Regions from separate parts of the Homo sapiens genome. Here regions 1, 3 and 4 are each reported to be linked to region 2. The links are microRNA targets in miRTarBase. Many come from high-throughput screens and were not tested one by one. Region 2 holds a microRNA gene; each other region holds the end of a gene's coding sequence.
Evidence for each region. Region 2 holds the annotated microRNA hsa-miR-548b-5p (AAAAGUAAUUGUGGUUUUGGCC, at 1,702-1,723, shown strand). A microRNA usually pairs through its seed, bases 2 to 8, with sites in the 3' UTR of a target mRNA and lowers its output. Matches are read on the target gene's strand: a 7mer-m8 pairs with bases 2 to 8, a 7mer-A1 pairs with bases 2 to 7 and ends in A, and an 8mer does both.

Region 1 (5,145 bases), not on the chromosome of region 2:
GCCAGGCTGGTCTCGAACCCCTGACCTCAAGTGATCCACTCACCTCAGCCTCCCAAAGTGCTGGGATTACAGACATCTGGTCTCTTCCTCTTCCTTACAGACCTCCCTACAGTCCACTCAGAGTCTTGGAGGTATTCCCGCCAACCTCCAGTTTGTCCAGGATCAGACAACCCCTCAGGACTATGGGCCTAGCTTTCTGTGCTTCTCTGCAAGTTAACCTCAGAGAACCAATGTGTGATCAGGTCCCTTCATATAAAACTGACCAGTGCCTCAGAAATCACAGAAACAGAGTCGGGGCTTTGGACTGGGCACCTTTCCATTAACTTTAAAGCAGGGATGGCCGTCCTCAGGTCTGGATTGGATCTGGTTCTTACAAGCCCTTGAAATTCACAAGAAGAAAATAACATTGTGTCATTCTGGATCATATTTGCACTGATTAACCTAATCTATTAAAGACAAGATTACATTCAGGAGGAGACTACCCACCCCAACAACAAATGCAGCAGTTGTATAAATTCAATAGGTCTCCACCTCATCTCATAGAACTATGCAGACCTTAAGGGTAGAAAGTGTTTCTTCCTTATTTTTGTTACTTAACCCTGTGTGTTTAACCCCCAGCTTTTCCCCTCCTCTGAAAACACTTGGCACTGGAGAAGGGTTGATTGAATTTTGCTCATGAATCTGGCTCTAGCATTCCATCAGATTACCCTCCTTTCTCGAGTGCCCACCCACCACCCAACGGAGGTTCCGATGCCATTTTCCAGTGCCAACCGCACCCTCAACCACCTTTCCAGTGTCAACCTTAGCCTTAGCTGCCAAGATTCCCCAGAGCTCAGCCTTCAAGCCTTTCTTCATGATTACACCCAAGAGTATCAGACTCGAAGGCTTGGCCAACCAAGTCTTCAGCAGCCCCATCACAGAGGCCATTTATATCCTGCTTGCTTTTCTCACCAGCACACTTCTCTTCTAAAGGGAAGCCAGGGAAACAATTGTTTCTGCCTCCACTGCATCCTCCTACATTCAGTTCCAAGCTAGTGCTGGGAACCGAATGTGTGTAAATGAAGGCTTTACATTCTCAAATGTGCAACTTTGCTGCCACGGCTTCAGACCAAAACAAAGATCTGGAGGCACTCATTGGCAGGCTTGGGTCACATAGATGTTCATCTGGATCTTTCAGGACACATATTACACTTTTTGAAAATATTTAGAACTGGCCGGAACTTAGTCACCTAGGTTCTCCCTATTGGTTGAACAGGTTGGCAGCCAATTCCACAGCCAATCTCAACTTTTGTTCACTGCCAAATGATTCCCCTGCAACCTCTGAGTTTCTGTGGGAAGAATCCTTCCTTACTTTCAAGATGATCTCAGATTTCTAACCAAACCCATTCAGGTTACAAGGAACTTCTGTGACTCATGTGACTCAAGAAAGAAAGGAGAAAGGAGAAATAGCTCTGAGGCTGCTGGCAGCTTCCCATTTGTCCACACCAGTAGATTTTGAAGGGCAAGAGAACAGGAACGAACCATGTCTGAGAAGCCAATATAGAAAAAAACTATGTTATAAAAACATTTTTGTCACAACAAATAAATTATACTTTAAACAAGAATAATGAATGTGTTCCATTCAAATATAAGTCTCTAATGAGTAAGTTAAAACACAGAGAATGTTGTCTAATTGTATTATTTGTGTGTGGGTATTAAAGAACGAATCAAATGGTGAGTGTATGTGTGTTTTCAAGACCAGACTTTGGGGCAAAACTATCTCAATTTTCATTTCCCTCAAGTGAAAACTGGTCATTTTTCCCCTAATAGTAATTTCTGTTAAGAAATGGGCAAAATATATGTGTGTGTGTGTGTGTGTGTGTGTGTGTGTGTGTGTGTGTGTATATATACATATATATATACACACACACCTATATATACACACACATATATACACACGTATTTGTGTATATAGGCAGTGTTGTTATTCCCACAATGCCTCAGAGTCAGCCCTGCCCTTAACTGGCTGAAGGATGTGGGATAACAACACCTATATACACATATATTTGTGTATAGGGACCACTGCAACAGGGTCTTGCAGTGAAGGAGAGAGATTGGACTCAACACCCTATTTATAATATATATAACGCAATGTACAACCAGAAGGAAACATGGTATGTCCAGTAATAAGCTTGTAATAAGCAACAAAGTTTTCTTTTAATAATGATGCTAAATTCCAGGATGCCAACATTCTTTGCTGATCCCTAAAATTGTGCACCTCGTAAGAATTCCGACTCTATTCTTCCCTCCCCACTTAGGACACCTTGATGATATTTATCACTCCCTGGTGTTTGTAACTGAAATGTAATACGTGTCCTATGTAAATACACAATCTGCTTAGTCATATATGCTTGTTTAACTGCCAAAGAGATGGGTTGGCTACGATTCTTTTCAAGCATCCAAAAATACTCACCAGAAGGAACTAAACAACCAATTTTCCTAAGATTATCCATCTACTAATTTGGGGGCTCAGAGAAGTAGCATGCTCCTAATCTCTTCTAAGATGCTGACTCCTAGGTTGACTCCACACCAGCTCTGATTCAAGAACAACAGGTGGCTCCCCAAAAAGGCTGAGCAATTTTATAGGATGAGAAAAAGCCTACGAATGATCATTTACTAAGCATTTACCTTATGCTTCATTAATGTTGCTATGAAAGTACTATAAGATCCTAATTTTTGTATTCCAAAAGTTCCCGCTTTTGTTAACATTTCCACCCTCTCTCCTCAAAAATATATATAAAAGGAATTTTACCACAGTGTAATCCATAAAAACCACACCTTTCTGATCTAGGTAATGGCTATCCCACATTGCTTCAGGCTAATTTATCAATAAATACTTATTGAGCACCATGCTGCCTTTCTTTTGGATATGTACCTAGTGGTAGAATTGCTGGAGCACATGGTAGTTCTATTTTCAGTTTTTTGACAAACCTCCATACTGTTCTCCGTAGTGGCTATACTAATTCACATTCCCACCAACAGTGTATGAGGATTCCCCTTTCTCCACATCCTTTCCAGCATCTGTTAGTGCCTGTCTTTTTGATTCAAGCCATTTTAACTGGGGTGAGATGATATCACATTATGATATTGATTTGCATGTCTCTGATGATTAGTGATACTGAACATTTTTTCTTACACCTGTTGGCAATTCGTATGTCTCCTTTTGAGAAATGTCTGTTCAAATTTTTTGCCCATTACTAAATTGGATTTTTTTTTTACTATTGAGTTGTTTAAGCTCCTTATGTATTCTTATTATTGATCCCTTATCAGGTGAATAGTTTGCAAATATTTTCTCCCATTCTCCCATTCTGTGGATTGTCTATTCACTTTGTTGACTGTTTCCTTTGCTGTACAGAAACTTTTTAGCTTGATGTAATCCCAATTGTCTATTTTTGCTTTGGTTGCCTGTGCTTCTGAGGTCTTATACAAGAAATCTTTGCCCAGACCAACATCTCAAAGTATTTGCCCAATGCTTTCTCCTAGGAGTTTCACAGTTTCAGGTGTTAGGTTCAACTCTTTAATCCATTTTGATTTGATATTTTTGTATAGTGAGAGATGGGGGTCTAGTTTCATTCTTCTGCATAGTTATGCTGTTTTCTCAGCACCATTTTTTTTGAAAAGACTGGACTTTTCCCATTCTAAGTTTTTGGTGCTTTTGTCAAAGATGAGTTGGTTATAAATGCATGAATTTATAACTGGGTTCTCTATTCTGTTCCACTGGTCTATGTGTCTGCTTTTATGCCAGTACCACGCTGTTTTGGTTACTATGCTTTTGTAATAAGTTTTGAAGTCCGGTATTGTGATCCCTCCAGCTTTGTTTTTTGGTTTGGGGGTTTTTGTGTTTCAGGGTATGTTTGTGTGTGTGGTGTGTGTGTGTGTGTGAAGGGTCTCACTCTGTTTTGTGTGTGTGTGTGTGTGTGTGTGTGTGTGTGTGTGTGAAGGGTCTCACTCTGTTGCCCAGGCTGGAGTGCAGTGGTGCACTCATAGCTCACTGCAGGCTCGAACTCCTGGCCTCATGCAGTTCTCCCATTTTGGCCTCCCAAAGTGCTGAGATTACAGGTATAAGCCACTATGCCCAACCCAGCTTTGTTCTTTATGCTCAGGATTGCTTTGCCTATTCAGGGTCTTTTGTGGTTCTATATAAATGTTAGGTTTGTTTTTTTTTTTTCTCTTTTTGTGAAGAATGTCATCGGTATTTTGATAGGGATTGCATTGAATCTGTAAGTAGTTTGTAGTAGTATTGTCATTTTAACAATATTATTCTTCCAATCCATGAGCATGGAATATATTTCCACTTTTTGGTGTCCTCTTCTGTTTCTTTCATCAGAATTTTATTTCCTTGTACAGAACTTTTATTTCTTTGGTTAGATTGATTCCTAGGTATTTTATATTTTTTGCAGCTATTGTAAATGGGATTACTTTCTTGATTTTTCAGATTGTTCACTGTTGGCACATATAAATGCTACTGATTTTTGTATGTTGATTTTGTAACCTGCAACTTTACTGAATTTGTTTTATGTTCTATCAGTTTTTTGGTGGAGTTTTTAGGTCTTTCTAAGTAATAAGATCATGTCCTCTTCAAACAAGGTTAACTTGACTTCTTCCTTTACAATTTGGATGCCCTTTTATTCTTTCTTTGCCTAGTTGCTCTGACCAGGACTTCCAGTATCATGTTGAATAAAAGTGGTAAAAGTGGGCAATTCTTATCTTGTACCAGTCTTTAGAGAAAAGGCCTTCAAATTTTCCCCTTTCGGTCTGATGTTAGCCATGAGTTTGACATAGATGGCCTTTAATAATTTGAGGTATGTTCCTTCTATATCCATTTTGATGAGGGTTTTTATGATAAAGGGATGAATTTTATCAAATACTTTTTGACATCTATTGAAAAAATTATATGGTTTTTGTTATTGATTCTGCTAATATGGTACATCATGTTTATTTCTGTAAATTTAATCATTTTTGAAGCATCCCTGGGATGAGTCCCACTTGATCATAGTCAATGATCCTTTGATGTATTATAGGATTCACTTTGCTAGTGTTTTGTTGAGGATTTTTGCATGTATGTTCATCAGTGATATTCGTCTGTAGTTTTCTTTTGTTGTGTGT
Region 2 (5,145 bases):
TTTTTATTCACCACAGGAAGTTTCTATCCTGCAGCCCACTTCAGAATGTAAAGGACATTAAGTAAATGTCAGAATTGGTGCCCCATGTCCCTTTTTTGGAGATAGACACCTATGGGAGACAATCACTAACTGATTTCAGGATTAGATAAATAGATAAATAAAAACAGCAACATTGAGATCCCATCTCTACTTTTTAAAAAATAAAAATAAAGAAAAACAATGTTATAAATGGTAGTTTGATATGGGGGAATCATATCAAACTATTAGGTTTATATTTTATATGTCAAGTGTGGTCTAAACCATAGGGGGCTTTTTAGATTGACCTAGAGAGTTAATGGTCCTTCAAAATATTGGAAAATATTCTTTGGCTGCCAATCAATTAATATATAAAAATGAATTTTTGAAACAATGATATTTGCAAGTTGGAGATTGCCAGTTGTATTTTGGTATGCTTAACCTTTAAGACCAAGCAAAAATTTTAGAAAATCTCTGATTCTTAACTTTTAACTAAATTACATCAGTGAACAACTGTCATTTGTAACCTTATTTCACCAAGGATTACATCTTTCTTTTCTACCAAAACTTCAACGAGAATGTATAAAAAGTAGTGAAGTTGAATATATGAATTTTTTATCCTGTATCTTACACTATTATCTTGAGATGCAAATGGAAGCTGAAACTATCAAAGGATCTATAGTACATGGAAAAACAAGACTTAGTGATTAACAATCATATGTGGGATTTGGATATTTTAGACTTGGCTACCATGTGCTACCTCATTTAATTGTAAAGGAGATAGTACTTTGATTTTTTTAATTGCTAATTCTGTATTTCCTTATTTACATGTACCATCTCTATACCAAAGTTTGAGGAAGTTGGAAAGTAAAACATTTCATCTATAAAGTGCATTACTAATATTTAAATTATCAATAAAATTGATAATTTTAGTAAAATAACAGGGTAAATTCCTATTTATGCGAAATTATTAGAGAATGAATTATTTTAGTTAACTAGAAGTTTCCATAGGGGTTAATAAGTTTTCACTTTCTCATATAGTATACTTACATTTACATCATACCATTCATATATCACACTGGAGTTCTTCATCAACTCCAGATCATTGTTAGGATCATCAGTGCATATATAGGAAATTGGACCAAACTTATGCTAGTCCTATTAGGCCAAATCCATGAATGCTGATATTTAATTTCTGAATAAATTGTTACTTGCCCTTTTACTTGTCATGTCTTTTTTACTTATAAAATGAAGTGTCGCATTTGGATATTTACAAATTCTAGACATTGGCCTTGGTGGTTGAGCAGATTTTGTTTATTCTGGCGAATGTGTGTCTATGTGTTCACAGGTATTTGCATTTTTCATCCTGTAGCTCCTTAAGCACAGTTTTAAAGATTCTCATTTCTTTCAGAAAACATTTTATGACCAAAATACTAAATAGTATTCTTTGCCTACCTTTAGATGTTTCGCCTAGTGAATTTTGGGAGGAAGGTGTGTGTGTGTGTGTGTTTAATGGTCTACTCAGAGTAATAAAATATACTTAGATATGACCGAAGTAGAATATATAGGTCTATGTGTTTGGTAAACTTGTCGAATGCCTACTTTATGAAAGACATTGTGCTTGGTACTATTAATTATTTAATACTATTTATTATTCCATTTCAGACTATATATTTAGGTTGGCGCAAAAGTAATTGTGGTTTTGGCCTTTATTTTCAATGGCAAGAACCTCAGTTGCTTTTGTGCCAACCTAATACTTCACATATATTTTCCAACAGACTTGAGAAAATGTAACTGGAATATATTAATCATATATTTTAATTACAACATATTTATCAGTACATTAATTCTGACAAATTTTAGATGTGTAATCATGGGCAAATTTTTCTATTTGGTTTCGTTCTTTTTGGGTAGAACTTATGTACGTGCTTTTCTTGGATAAAGAAACTATACTGATACCTTCTAAATTCTCTAATAAGGTTTTGATGACTCAGTTGACATATTCTGGTTACAAATCTCTAATATATTTGGCTGGGGGGTAGAGCGGGTAAAAGGAAATTTCAGTCTTGGAAACCCCGGAGTTAATGTGTTTGTGTTAGGTTTAGGTTTCTCATGGGCAGCCGGAGAGCCACATTGTTCCCAGAGCCAAACGGCCCAGTGAGGCAGCAGTGCCCATCATATGGGTCAGAGGTGTGGTTCAGTAAGTTAGGCATTCCCTTATTTGAAGTTCACCTTCACCACTTCCTAGTGTTTGACTTTTAATACATATTTTAACCACTCAGGGCTGTCTTGTCCTCATCTGTAAAATGAGAATGACAAAGCGTACTTCATAGAATTATTATAAAGATTAAAGGAGATAATTGATGCAGGAGAGAGAAGTCAGTTTGTACCCACTATCCCCTCCCCACTTGGTTAAGCCTCTGCTGACATACTCTTTAACAATAAAGTAGGTTTTTAGGCCAGGCGCAGTGGCTCACACCTGTAATCCCAGCACTTTGGGAGGCCGAGGTGGGTGGATCACACTTGAAGTCAGGAGTTCGAGACCAGCCTGGCCAACATGGTGAAACCCTGTCTCTACTAAAAATACAAAAATTAGCCGAGTGTGGTGGTGCATGCCTGTAATCCCAGCTACTCGGGAGGCTGAGGCAGGAGAATTGCTTGAACCCAGGAGGCGGAGGTTGTGGTGAGCTGAGATTGCGCCACTGCACTCCAGCCTGGGTGCACAGTGAAACTCCATCTCAAAAAAAAAAAAAAAAAACCCACACACAAAAAAACAATAAAGTAGGTTTTTATATGTCTTTATTTTGTTTGTTTGTTTATTTATTTATTTTTTAGAGATAGAGTCTGGCTATGTTGCCCAGGCTGGAGTGCAGGGGTGCCATCATAGCTTGCTGCAACCTTACACTCCTGGGGTCAAGTGATCCTTCCACCTCAGTTTTCTGAGTAGCTGGGATTATAGGTGCAAGCCACTGTGCCCAGCTATATTTTCTTTTCTGATGGATATATAGTCTACATTGTTGGGGACCATAGCTGTCAAGTAAAGGTTGAGCAGCAAATAAAATATAGTCAGTTCTCATTATTCGTGGTCGTTGTATTGCATGGTCTAGGGAGAATACAGAGCTAGGTTCCTGACACCCTCTGGTCACAACATTTTCACCAACTGATCAATGTATAACCTTGTTTTATGTGTGTTTCTGTTTAAAACACCTTTTAAAATATATATTGATCCATTAACAGTGAAGCCACAGCCAAATATCACTATAACTCATGCCTGAACAAAGGTTATTTAGCACACCTTGAGTGTTAGATTTTGGGGTTACATGTAAATTTTAGCAAGTAAGATAATTTACAAATAGGGAGTCCATGAGTAAAGAAGATCAACTGTATCTAAAAATGGAAGCACAACTTTGCATCTGCTGTTTTCTTAGCTCCTGCTGTTTATCAGCTATTGTTAGGGGCCTAAGTGACTATGACTCTTATTACCACCCTAAACACCCTCACATGAGTGTGACTTTGACTCTCATTATCTCAGTAAACACCCTCAGATGAAAGGGGTGGAAAGGATAATGGAGGCTGAAATACTAATCTTTTGTGTGACTTGCCAGTCACCTACAGGCCACCCTACAATCATAAGCATGGGATAAATTCTTTCCTTGTATGTTAATTGTAATCTTCAAGATCTAAACTTGAATCTATCACATTGCCCTACATCAGAAAAAGGAAAAAAAATATGTAAATGATTCCAGGGCATGGAGCAAAACCTTTAAAAAATAATTTATTTTAGTTTAAATAAAATCTTTCATAGTCATCATTTGCCTAAAACATGTTTGCAGTTACTTCTTTTCTAGCATAAATTGTCACTGTGGGAGTTGGTTTTGTTAAAAGTCTTTGTCTATGTACCTAAAGATAACTTGAAATCTTATACAGTTCGAGGCTATAGCACATTTGGTTGGATGTTTCTGAATTAACCTTATGCAACATACAGAAAACTTCTGCAATTCAATTCATATCTGTCCACACTTTCTTGTTTCAACCCCCTAGTAATTATCAGAAAAAGGAACCCAGTTAAGAGTACTACTGTGATCATGAGGGAGTTGGCAAAGATAACTGTCCTGGAATAAATAACAATTTGATCTGGAGCCAAGCTCATTACTATAATATTGCTCTATTTAGGACCATGTATATCTTTAACCTTCAATCCTGAGTCACTGTTGCTATTTGCTCTCTCTATTCTTACTTCTGGATTGTGGAGCATTGCTAGAGAAAATTATGGAACTGGACTGTAGCAGCACAATGGCACCCTCAAAGATGTTCACGTTCTAATACCTAGAACCTGTGAAGATGTTATCTGACATTAGCATTAGCAGATGTGGTTAGGTTAGGGATCTTGAGATGGGGAGATTATCCTTGACTATTTGGATGGGCAACTGTAATCACAAGGATCCTTCTAAGTGAAAGAGGGAGCCAAGGAACACAGGTGGCCTCTGGAAGCTGGAAAAGGCAGGGAAACAAGTTCTCCCCAAGAGCCTTCAGATTTTGGCCCAGTAAAACTATTTTCAGACTTCTAACCTCAGGAATTCTAAGGTTAGTACATTTGTGTTGCTTTAAGACACTTGGTGTTAAATTGTTACCACAACATGGCTCTCTACAAAGTCATGTAGGCCAATTTTGTCTGATCACTCAGTATTGCTGCACTATATGATGTTGTTCTCTGAATTGTTCACAGCTGTGGACCGTGTGTCCTCTCTTCCTTCCCTGTACACATGGGATGGATAAGCTGCTATTTTACTGAAACTATCAAGCTTAACTTACTTGTCTGCAAAGATACTGGGGTCATTTATTCGTGAAAAGAACTTTCTCCTGATTCTTAGCTGCCTTAGCTCTCATGTACTACTGCTTTTCTGTGTCTTAAATAGATCACCCTTGGCAGAGACAGATGGGAATCAAGGAAATTAAATGGGAAGCTATTGTAATAGTATTGGTGAGAAATTATGAGGGCCATGGATTAGGACAATAGTGGTAGAGAGATAGGAGATTTGAGAAATATCAAATCTGAGGAGGAGATTTGAGAAATCTCAGATCTGAGGAGGAGATTTGAGAAACATTTTGGAGATAAATTTGGCAGCACTT
Region 3 (4,000 bases), not on the chromosome of region 2:
TGGGGAAATAGAACCAGACACAATTTAAAGTGGGACCCAAATAGAAACATAATTCTTTTATGAAACAAATGTTTTATTTTCTGTTTGTCACACGGATGCCATCTAAATTTTAAAAGAAATCTAGGCTTCCTCTTATTCTTTATGTTTTTTTTAAAAGCAAGAAGTCAGAGACTTTGTACATCATGATTAACTTCTACATTTGTTTGAGCTATGTGTCACAAGTAATTAAGTTATAAATATTCTGAAGATTAATTGGTGCACACTCTAAGTGCTTTTTAAATTTTACACAGCTTACCTTTCTTTCTGAAGAATGTCCTCACAAAGATAGATTATATCAATTTCTCCACTGATGATGTATTCCAGCAATAAACATAGTCCTAGAATTGTAGAATGTGCACTGCTGCACTCTGTCCTAACAGACAGTAGACAAGGTTTATAATTTTTTTCTATGGGACACTAAAAATACCCTAGGATTTCCTTTAACTTTTTGCACTGACAGGTCTAAAGCAAAGCCACAGAAGCTGCTCTTGCTCAGTAAGTATTGTTAATGCTGCAGTGCATATTAAAATTTCAGAAAACCCAATTATGTACTATCTAGGTGTGGATAGCTCTCATTGTTAGTATCCTAAATCATCTAAAGGCTTGTTTTCTTTCTTTTTTTTTTTTTTACAGACCTAACTACCATAATGAATGCTGCATATTAAGAGAAACCACAAGAAGGTTATATGTTTGGTTGTCTAATATTCTTGGATTTGATATGAACCAACACATAGTCCTTGTTGTCATTGACAGAACCCCAGTTTGTATGTACATTATTCATATTCCTCTCTGTTGTGTTTCGGGGGGAAAAGACATTTTAGCCTTTTTTAAAAGTTACTGATTTAATTTCATGTTATTTGGTTGCATGAAGTTGCCCTTAACCACTAAGGATTATCAAGATTTTTGCGCAGACTTATACATGTCTAGGATCCTTTTATCAAGGCAGTTATGATCATCGTTTTCCTGCCTTGACCCCACCATCATCAAACACTCAGTTAAATATAAATTAACATTTTTTAGATGACCACTCAACATAATGCTTAAGAATGGAATTTCCTCTCTGTGACAGAACCCAGGAATTAATTCCTAAATACATAACGTTGGTATATTGAAGACGAAATTAAAATTGTCCTTCAGTTTTGAGGCCATGTGTAAAGTTTAACCATATTGTAAAATATCTATTCCGTATTAGAAATAGCTAGTTGACAGCTTATACTTCTCAAAATTCATATTGTTATGTACACAAACTAAGTTTCTATATGTGAAGTTAGTGAGTCTTTTTGTGTTACTCCAAAATAAAGGCAATGATTTATTTTTTTCCCAGTGCCAATACAATTTTGAGCTAAGCACTCAAGGTGGATACTTTACATTTTAAAGCTGGAATCAGCAACAGCCCTATGGGAAACCAGACAAAGCATTGACTTTTAAATGTAGACTTTTAAAATAAACTGTTTTCTTTTGGAACTACAATTAGAATAGTTAATATTCATCCTTAAACCATTATTATGTGTACATTATTGTTGCTATTGTGATAATAGAGAATTTTATTTATTTTTATGCCAGCTTATATTGTGAGAACACATTTAGTCAGTTTGGGTTTTATCAATCCTGTTAATGCTTGTCCTTGGAACATCTTTCGCGTATTCACGGTTTGTAGTTGAAAAGTTTACTGTAAAAAAATCAAAAACAAAAAAATGTATTGTTTTTACAGAATAAATTTATTGGAATGTGTACTGGGAGTAAGATTTGAGGTTGTAAGCAAACTAAGTTAGTGTAATTTGGCTTCATATATGTAACGTGAGGTATTAATGTAATTCATATATTAAAGCAAAAATTGTTCACAGCAAGCTGACAATAGAATCAAGTGCAGGTGAGGGTTTTTCTTTTTCTTTCTTTTTTTTTTTTTAAACACTCTCTGGGTTTTAGATTATTTGAAAACACTGTAGGGGATGATGGGGAGATGACTACATGATTTGCTTACACTTACATATTTACCAGCCCAGTGGACCCTAGATTTTGTAATTTGATATTATCCATGCATTGATTTGTATCCCATTTTCTTTTGGTTTTCTTGATGAGAGCTAATAAAAACATGAGAAAATGTGAGCAGACCTAAAAGCCTAGGGCCGTTAATAATGATGATGGTGATGATGGCAGCTAAGGGTATGAAAGCACCAGTCCATTTATCATTCCAGGGCACAGTGAGGAGGTGGCTGTTTGTATTTTTGGTGTGTTTCTTTCATTTAGTGAATACTGATTTTCTCTAGTATACTCAACATACAATCCCAAACATGAAAAGTTCATAAAAAGATAGTAGGGATGTCGATCTAATACTTCTTCCTTAAAAGGTCCTTTTTAATTTTGAATATTTGAATGTATTTTTTAATTAATGAAATTTAATTCATCAAAAGACCTCTTCATTGCTCACACTGAAACATAAGGGGAATGTAGATGGCATTTTGAATTGGAATATACAACTCACAAATTTTCTTTAAAAGCGTTTTATGTGTATATATGAAATGTTTCAAATTTAATAAGATTTGTCTTTATAAGAGGCCAAAAATAATTTTATTAAAAATATACACAGAAATACAATAGAAATATTTCCAGCCACCAATAAAACAAATGTTCATTAAGGATAGAGATAAAGTTACTGATCCCTATTTAGCTGTTTAAATTCACACAAAAAAATTTAGTAAAAGTAATTTTCTTGAAACAGCAGCAAATAATAAACTTTCCTTGGGAAAACATTTTTCAAACAACATTTAAAAATATTCTGATGATTTGCCTTTTATATTGAGTTTAATAATGAAGCATATTCATCTTATTTGCAAAAGTTACTCCTCCAGTCTGCATTCACTGTTTTGAATTTTTTAATATGCACAGGCCATATTCTCTTTTGAATAGTTTCATTTCATGCTCACTACTGTTGGCACTAAATTGTAATTTTTTACACTTATAATTATTTTATATGTCAAACAATATTGAGATGGATGATCAAGTTTATTCACAAATGATTTTGAATATATTTCTTTAAACAAACTGTTTCTCAAGAATTTCCATTTTCCTTCAAAAAAAATTTACACAATACCATATAGCTCACACATACAGTGCAGAGCAAGAATGTACATATTCTTAAGTACTCACGTATGAGAAGAGAGTGAAATGGGACAAAATATCAGTACCAGTATAACAAAAGTTAGTAATTTAGAAAGGAGGAACATGAAGTAATATTTTTATTCCACTTTTTCTTCTGCCTTTGTTTTTATGAAGAACTCTGGTTTGTAGATACAACGATAGGCCAAGAGCTGAGGAAGAACTCCATATGCTATGTTTAATGCTAAAAAAAGGATTTTTGCTTCTTCAGGGACTCTGTAGACATAAGCAGTTCTAGCATGAAGAGATGCACCAATGTGAGAAAACTGAGCCTGTTGCATTTAAAAAAAAAAAATTGAGTAAGCATGAAACGTGTTCAGTTGGATGCATGATGAGTTCTGAATGGTTCATTCAGGCTACGTTTCTGTGCCCTCAAAACCAGTCTCACCTGCAGGCAAAATACCTTCAAACAATCCAGAGTCTTTAATGTCAGAGTCTTTCATTAAATTTAGTCCTTGATTAAATTTAGGGCCATTCTTGATATGACTGTTCAAATAAAGTAGATATTATTTAGTGTAGTTTTATCATGCCAGTTGTGTTTTTTAACCATCAAGTGCCCCTTACCGAACATTAGTGGCTCAATCTAATAGAAAAATCTGAATAAAATCTCAAATTTTTTTCTGATTTGCGTTCTGGAGATCCTGCATACAGACTCAGTTGTGGTTCACAAATTGCGTTCCAATAAAAATGAAGAAAGCGCAGAGTTTTAAAAAACAAATATTTTTAGCATAAACTATTGAAAGGGAAGCACTGGGGGGACCTCAGCTTCATTTATCAGTCTTTCATCTACTCCTTGCAGCAAGAG
Region 4 (5,145 bases), not on the chromosome of region 2:
ATATGAATATATCACAGTCTATCCATTCAGCTATGGATGAATATTTAAATTGTTTTCAGTTTTGGATTTCCATGATTACAAATGAAGTTAAATGACTTTCCATATTTGTTGGCCATTTGGTTTTCCTTTTCTGTGAATGGACTGTTCAAACCTTTGCTCATTTTTCTGTTGGCATATTTGCCTTTTTCTTAGTGATTTGTAAGAGTTGTTTATATGCCAGGCACTAATTCTTTGTTAGTTATATATATTACAAATGGTTTTGTCCAGCCTATTGTCTTTTCCACTTTATTTATGGTATGCTATATATAGATGTTTTGAATTTTCATGTCAAATTGCTCAATGTTTTATGCTTTCTGTGTGTGTCTTGTTTAACAAATCCCTCTCTACCCTAAGACTTTCCTATAATCTTTTTTCTGCCATCCTATATAAGCAAAAAGGATCAGTAAGTATATATATATTTTTTAAATCCTAGACAGTTATAACAGTAAGACTGTCTCATCTACCTCTCAGGCAGGAGTCTCCCTTAGTCATCTTTTAGATAAAGAGGTAATGACTGCTTGAGTAAATTGTAGAAGGATATGGTCAAGAGAGGCAAGTCCAGGATAATAGGTAATACAAGATTATCGGGACAGTCCAAGAATTTGGAGAGCATGATACTCTGCCACAGGACACTTTAAAAATCTTCTGTTAAAAAAGTAAAGTTCTGTTGTGTTTAAAGTCTGTTATTTTTACCTAACAAACCACTGTAGGAAAACCATGTAAGAAAAACTCTATATAGTCAGTGAGCCCTTTAGCTACACAAGTTTGTTTGTTGTGTTTTCAGGGTGAATGTTTCATACACATTTCTTTTATTATAAATGTTTACCTGTTATGCTTTCTAGGTAATATATGTCCATTTTAAGTGTGGAAGCCTAGTGATCGCCTGCAGTCAAGTCTTGCTGGATTGTTTGTTTAATAAATATAAAAACTAACAATTTTCCACAGCAAAAAATTGTACACAATTAGGATTTTCAACCATGTCATATGCATTAAATGTTTCTACTTTTTTGAGATTTAGTTTTGCATTATACATACAGAGAACATATTTTGCAAAAGCATGTTTTCTTTTTTCATGTAACATATTGTGGCTTATGCAATTAGTAATTTTTTCAAATTTGTGTTTGTTCTAGAAAATTAAACAACGCAAAAATAAGCAAACAGATGGCATCCTCACCAAGGAATTGTTACATTCAGTTCATCCTGAATCACCTAACCTCAAAACTTCCCTGTGTTTTAAAGAGCAGACTCTGCTACCCGTAAATGATGCTCTTCGAACTATAGAGGGCAGCAGCCCGGCAGATAATCGTTATAGTGAATATGCAGAAGAGTTTTCTAAATCAGAACCTGCTGTGGTCAGCTTAGAGTATGGTGTGGCAAGAATGACTTGTTAGACTCATAGAGTTTTTTCTGCAATGATTGCAGTACAAGAAAAGGATTATTGTGAGGATGGTCTGTAAGCATAACCAAAAGGAATTTGTCTAATAACAATTTTAGGGTTTAACAGTAGGCTAATAGTTGAAGGAAGGATAATAACTACCCTTGTGAGAGAAATAAGTCATTTTAATTGCATTTCCAGCAAGGAATGACATTCAGTTCTGTAAGAAATGAGTGGTATTTGATGTATTTACTCAAAACACAATTTGCACTGTACACTAGTGAATTGACGTTTATGATTTATGTTAATTCAGCCAAACATAAATAACCTTCCTTAAGTACAATTTAACTTCAAGAAAACAAAATTTGACAACATAGTTTCTTAATAAATGATATGGCATGTACTTTCAATTATGTAGCTTTGTAACTATGAATATTTACATATTTTGCCTTTTAGTGATATTTAATGTTAAAGTGCCATGAAAAATATTTCTAAGAAAGCCTTAAATTCCCAGTGGATTCTTTACCCTTAAGTTTTACAGCCTACAACAAGATTTTTTGTTTTGTTTTTCTTCTGGTCAGCCTTGTTTTGTTTGTAAAGAATTGTGCTCTCATTACTGCTGGGGGTGCATGCTACAATACTTCTATATAAACACTTGTAGAAGTACACTGTTCACGTTTAGCCTGCCCCACTTTTGTATTCAAAATTAATGAAACTGAAGGTTTATTCTGATCATAATTTGTTTAGTGCTACATTTGATAATTTATTATTTACAGCTTAGAATATTGATTTCTTGAATACGTATAAGCACATTTGACTGTCTTTTATATATGGATTACTGCATTCCATTGATTCTTATTTTGTGGTTGGCTTTATTTCTTTCACAACTGTGTAAGTTTAAAGAGCTAAAGCTCTAAAACTGTTCTGAGAAACAATGAATAGTACATGTATATGTATATTTTTAAACTGCCTTATTGCTCAATGAGTTGCTGTTCCTGGAGTATCTAACTTTCAGTTTACTCAAAAACTTTTGGGTAAATAAAAAAGGGAAGTACAGATAGTTTAGGTTGTGCATGGTTGCATGAATTTTGAAGTCATTTCTATGTGGAGCATTATTTTTCTTCTTGTTAAATATAGAAAAAAAAAGAGATTCTAGTACAAAGTTACTGTTTAACAAAAGCAACATAAACTCTGGGAAAGATTTCATTTTGCCATGTTATATTTACTGTTTATTCTGTGTACTAGTACATATCTTTAAATTACCAAAAAACAAGAAACAAAACATAAAAACCCCAAAACTATCACTTGGAATTAGCAATATCACCCAACTGGCTTTAAAATTGAAAATTTAAATAACATGGTGGCATGAAGTACAATTCGAGTATTAGGCAATTTGCATAGTGTTCCTCATGCTACTTTCTGTTACACCTCTATTATATTAGTTTTGAATATAAACATCTTTTTCAGACCAAAAAAAACTTTATTGTATGAGAGCTTATCTTATCCTGTTTATTTTTCCAATGCTTTTCTGTAATACATTATGTAATTTAAAAAATATTCCTTTTTAAACAGCAACAGAAATGCACTATAAAATATAGTATGTGATTAACCAATCCTGCTTCCATATTTAAGCACTGGGAATGGAAACTTAATCTCTGTGACTACAAAGGGAAGTTTTTGTGCCTTGGTGTTCCAGTCACTGATTGTGGTTTTAGAATCTTCTGTGGCTGACTTCTTGTATTCAACTCTGGTTTATTATCTTAATCTTCAACTTCAGACATATATTTGTGTGTTTATATGCTCACAGGTGGACTGAGAAATCAGTTACATCTTAAGTGACCTACAGGGTATATGTTGGCAAAAGCAGACTGTGTATATGTCTTATAAAGTTGAATTTATGTTCAGTGTGTTTGGAAGTGTATAGCATGTAAATTACTTCATATATGATTTAAAGGTAATTAAATGTTCACATTTTACTTTGAATGTTTTTCTTCTGGATAAAACAAATGGAATCAAGTTGTAGTTGTTTTTTTTTTCTTCTCACCTAGGCAAGTAGACTTGCCCATTACATTAACATAACAGCATAAGGTTTGAGGAGTTTATTTTCCAAAAGTTTGTTGATAAATAATACCTGTTTCATACAAAAATAATTTCCAGAATATTTAAAATAGGTATAGTGGGCTAAAAGGCCCATCAGATGTAGGTAATAATGTCATTAAGTTTTCATTTTGTTCCTGTCACTTGCTTATATTACAATCACTATTTTTTTGTGCCCTTGCCAACTTGATGGAAGGCAGGGTCCATTGAGTACAAACATTCGAGGTGAAATGTCTCTCCAAAGGCAGATCTGGATGTAAATATGAGGAAGAAAATAACTGGCTGACAAGAGGATAATTTTATTGAGGGTGTTTTGAAAAGGTCAGCTAGGCTAGAAGTAGCTCAGGGAATCTTGAGTAAAGATGAAGGGAACTCTTTTAAAACAAATTCAATTTATTTGGTCGGGTAGCAGAGCAGGGAGGTGGTGTCAGTCAAGCCTGTTTTGAAACATTTTTTGCAGAAGGTCAGCTTTAAAATATTGAAAAATTTCCAGTTGACATGCTAAGTTGGATTAAATGCTGATCATTTATAAAACTATATAGTTGCTGCAAAAGTAATTGGGGCTTTTGCCATTGAAAGTGATGACAAAAACCGCAATTACTTTTGCACCAACCTAATACTACAGTTGCAGACTTTTATTAGTGACGCTGATCTTCATTAGTCAAGTTTTAGTTATTTTGTTGGCTTTTCCATGTAGAATTCCAAGTGACATTAACATACTTTGATTAATTAAAGAAAATTTGGAGACTGTTTAAGATATATGTCTAGATATCAATGTAAACTATAAGCTTTAGGAACTTACATCTAGAAGAAAGCCTGGAATCTAGAATAATTATCTCAAAAAAAAGTATATATACCATTGTACTTGATATAAGAAAATGTAAACATGAAACCTTGACATTTTAATAAACAGTATTTGTGCTACTCTAGTTATTTCTAGGAAAGTAAAATATCCATTTAAATGGCAACTTTTATAAAATAGTGGCCTGCATAACTGAAAGGAACTTTCAGAAGCTAGTAGTAGACTCTATAGCCCTGGTGTTCAGTTTCTGATTCAGTAGTTAGGGGTTGGGACTCTGGAGTTAAAATCATTTGCATACCAATAAATTGTTTGCACTTAGCAATATTTTGGATATTGTGATGCAAATGGTTGGGGAATCATACTTTGAGAAACACTGCTGTAAACCACCCATCATGGTCAGTAAACATCTTGTTTGTTCTTAAAGGGATGCCGAATTATTCTTTTTTTTTTTTTTTTTTTTTTTTTTTTGAGACGGAGTTTCACTCTTGTTTCCCAGGACAGAGTTAAAGTGGCACAATCTTGTCTCACCACAACCTCCGCCTCTGGGTTCAAGTGATTCTCCTGCCTCAGCCTCCGGAGTAGCTGGGATAACAGGCATGCACCACCACACCGGGCTAATTTTGTTGTTTTAGTAGAGACGGGGTTTCTCCATGTTAGTCAGGGTGGTCTCAAACTCCTGACCTCAGGTGATCCACTGGCTTTGGCCTCCCAAAGTGCTGGGATTACAGGCGTGAGCCACCACGCCCCACCTCAGAATTACTCTTGTATAAAGAGCAACAGGCTAGGGAGCATCACACTTCTGAAACATTGTGATACAAGTGGGAGTGAGAAA

Region 1: the mRNA of PLET1 is a reported target of hsa-miR-548b-5p. Seed matches in the 3' UTR shown: 7mer-m8 at 1,348-1,354 and 7mer-A1 at 1,590-1,596.
Region 3: the mRNA of TM6SF1 is a reported target of hsa-miR-548b-5p. Seed matches in the 3' UTR shown: 7mer-m8 at 2,738-2,744.
Region 4: the mRNA of MTMR6 is a reported target of hsa-miR-548b-5p. Seed matches in the 3' UTR shown: 7mer-m8 at 3,388-3,394 and 7mer-m8 at 4,109-4,115.

What each region holds. Positions count from the first base shown.
Region 1 is chr11:112,244,624-112,249,768 of GRCh38, reverse strand. PLET1 (placenta expressed transcript 1) reads left to right here. Exons shown (of 4, transcript NM_001145024.1): 4 at 795-1,616. The coding sequence ends at 970. Among named protein-coding and RNA genes, the nearest start is that of PLET1, 14 kb to the left of the region's middle.
Region 2 is chr6:119,065,676-119,070,820 of GRCh38, reverse strand. MIR548B (microRNA 548b) reads left to right here and starts at 1,678; the gene lies at 1,678-1,774. The region is part of intron 1 of FAM184A (family with sequence similarity 184 member A); the gene reads left to right.
Region 3 is chr15:83,135,948-83,139,947 of GRCh38, reverse strand. TM6SF1 (transmembrane 6 superfamily member 1) reads right to left here. Exons shown (of 10, transcript NM_023003.5): 10 at 2,540-3,467. The coding sequence ends at 3,276. It overlaps HDGFL3 (HDGF like 3), which reads left to right. Exons shown (of 6, transcript NM_016073.4): 6 at 673-4,000. The coding sequence ends at 678. Among named protein-coding and RNA genes, the nearest start is that of TM6SF1, 30 kb to the right of the region's middle.
Region 4 is chr13:25,245,517-25,250,661 of GRCh38, reverse strand. MTMR6 (myotubularin related protein 6) reads left to right here. Exons shown (of 14, transcript NM_004685.5): 14 at 1,170-4,440. The coding sequence ends at 1,430. Among named protein-coding and RNA genes, the nearest start is that of MTMR6, 39 kb to the left of the region's middle.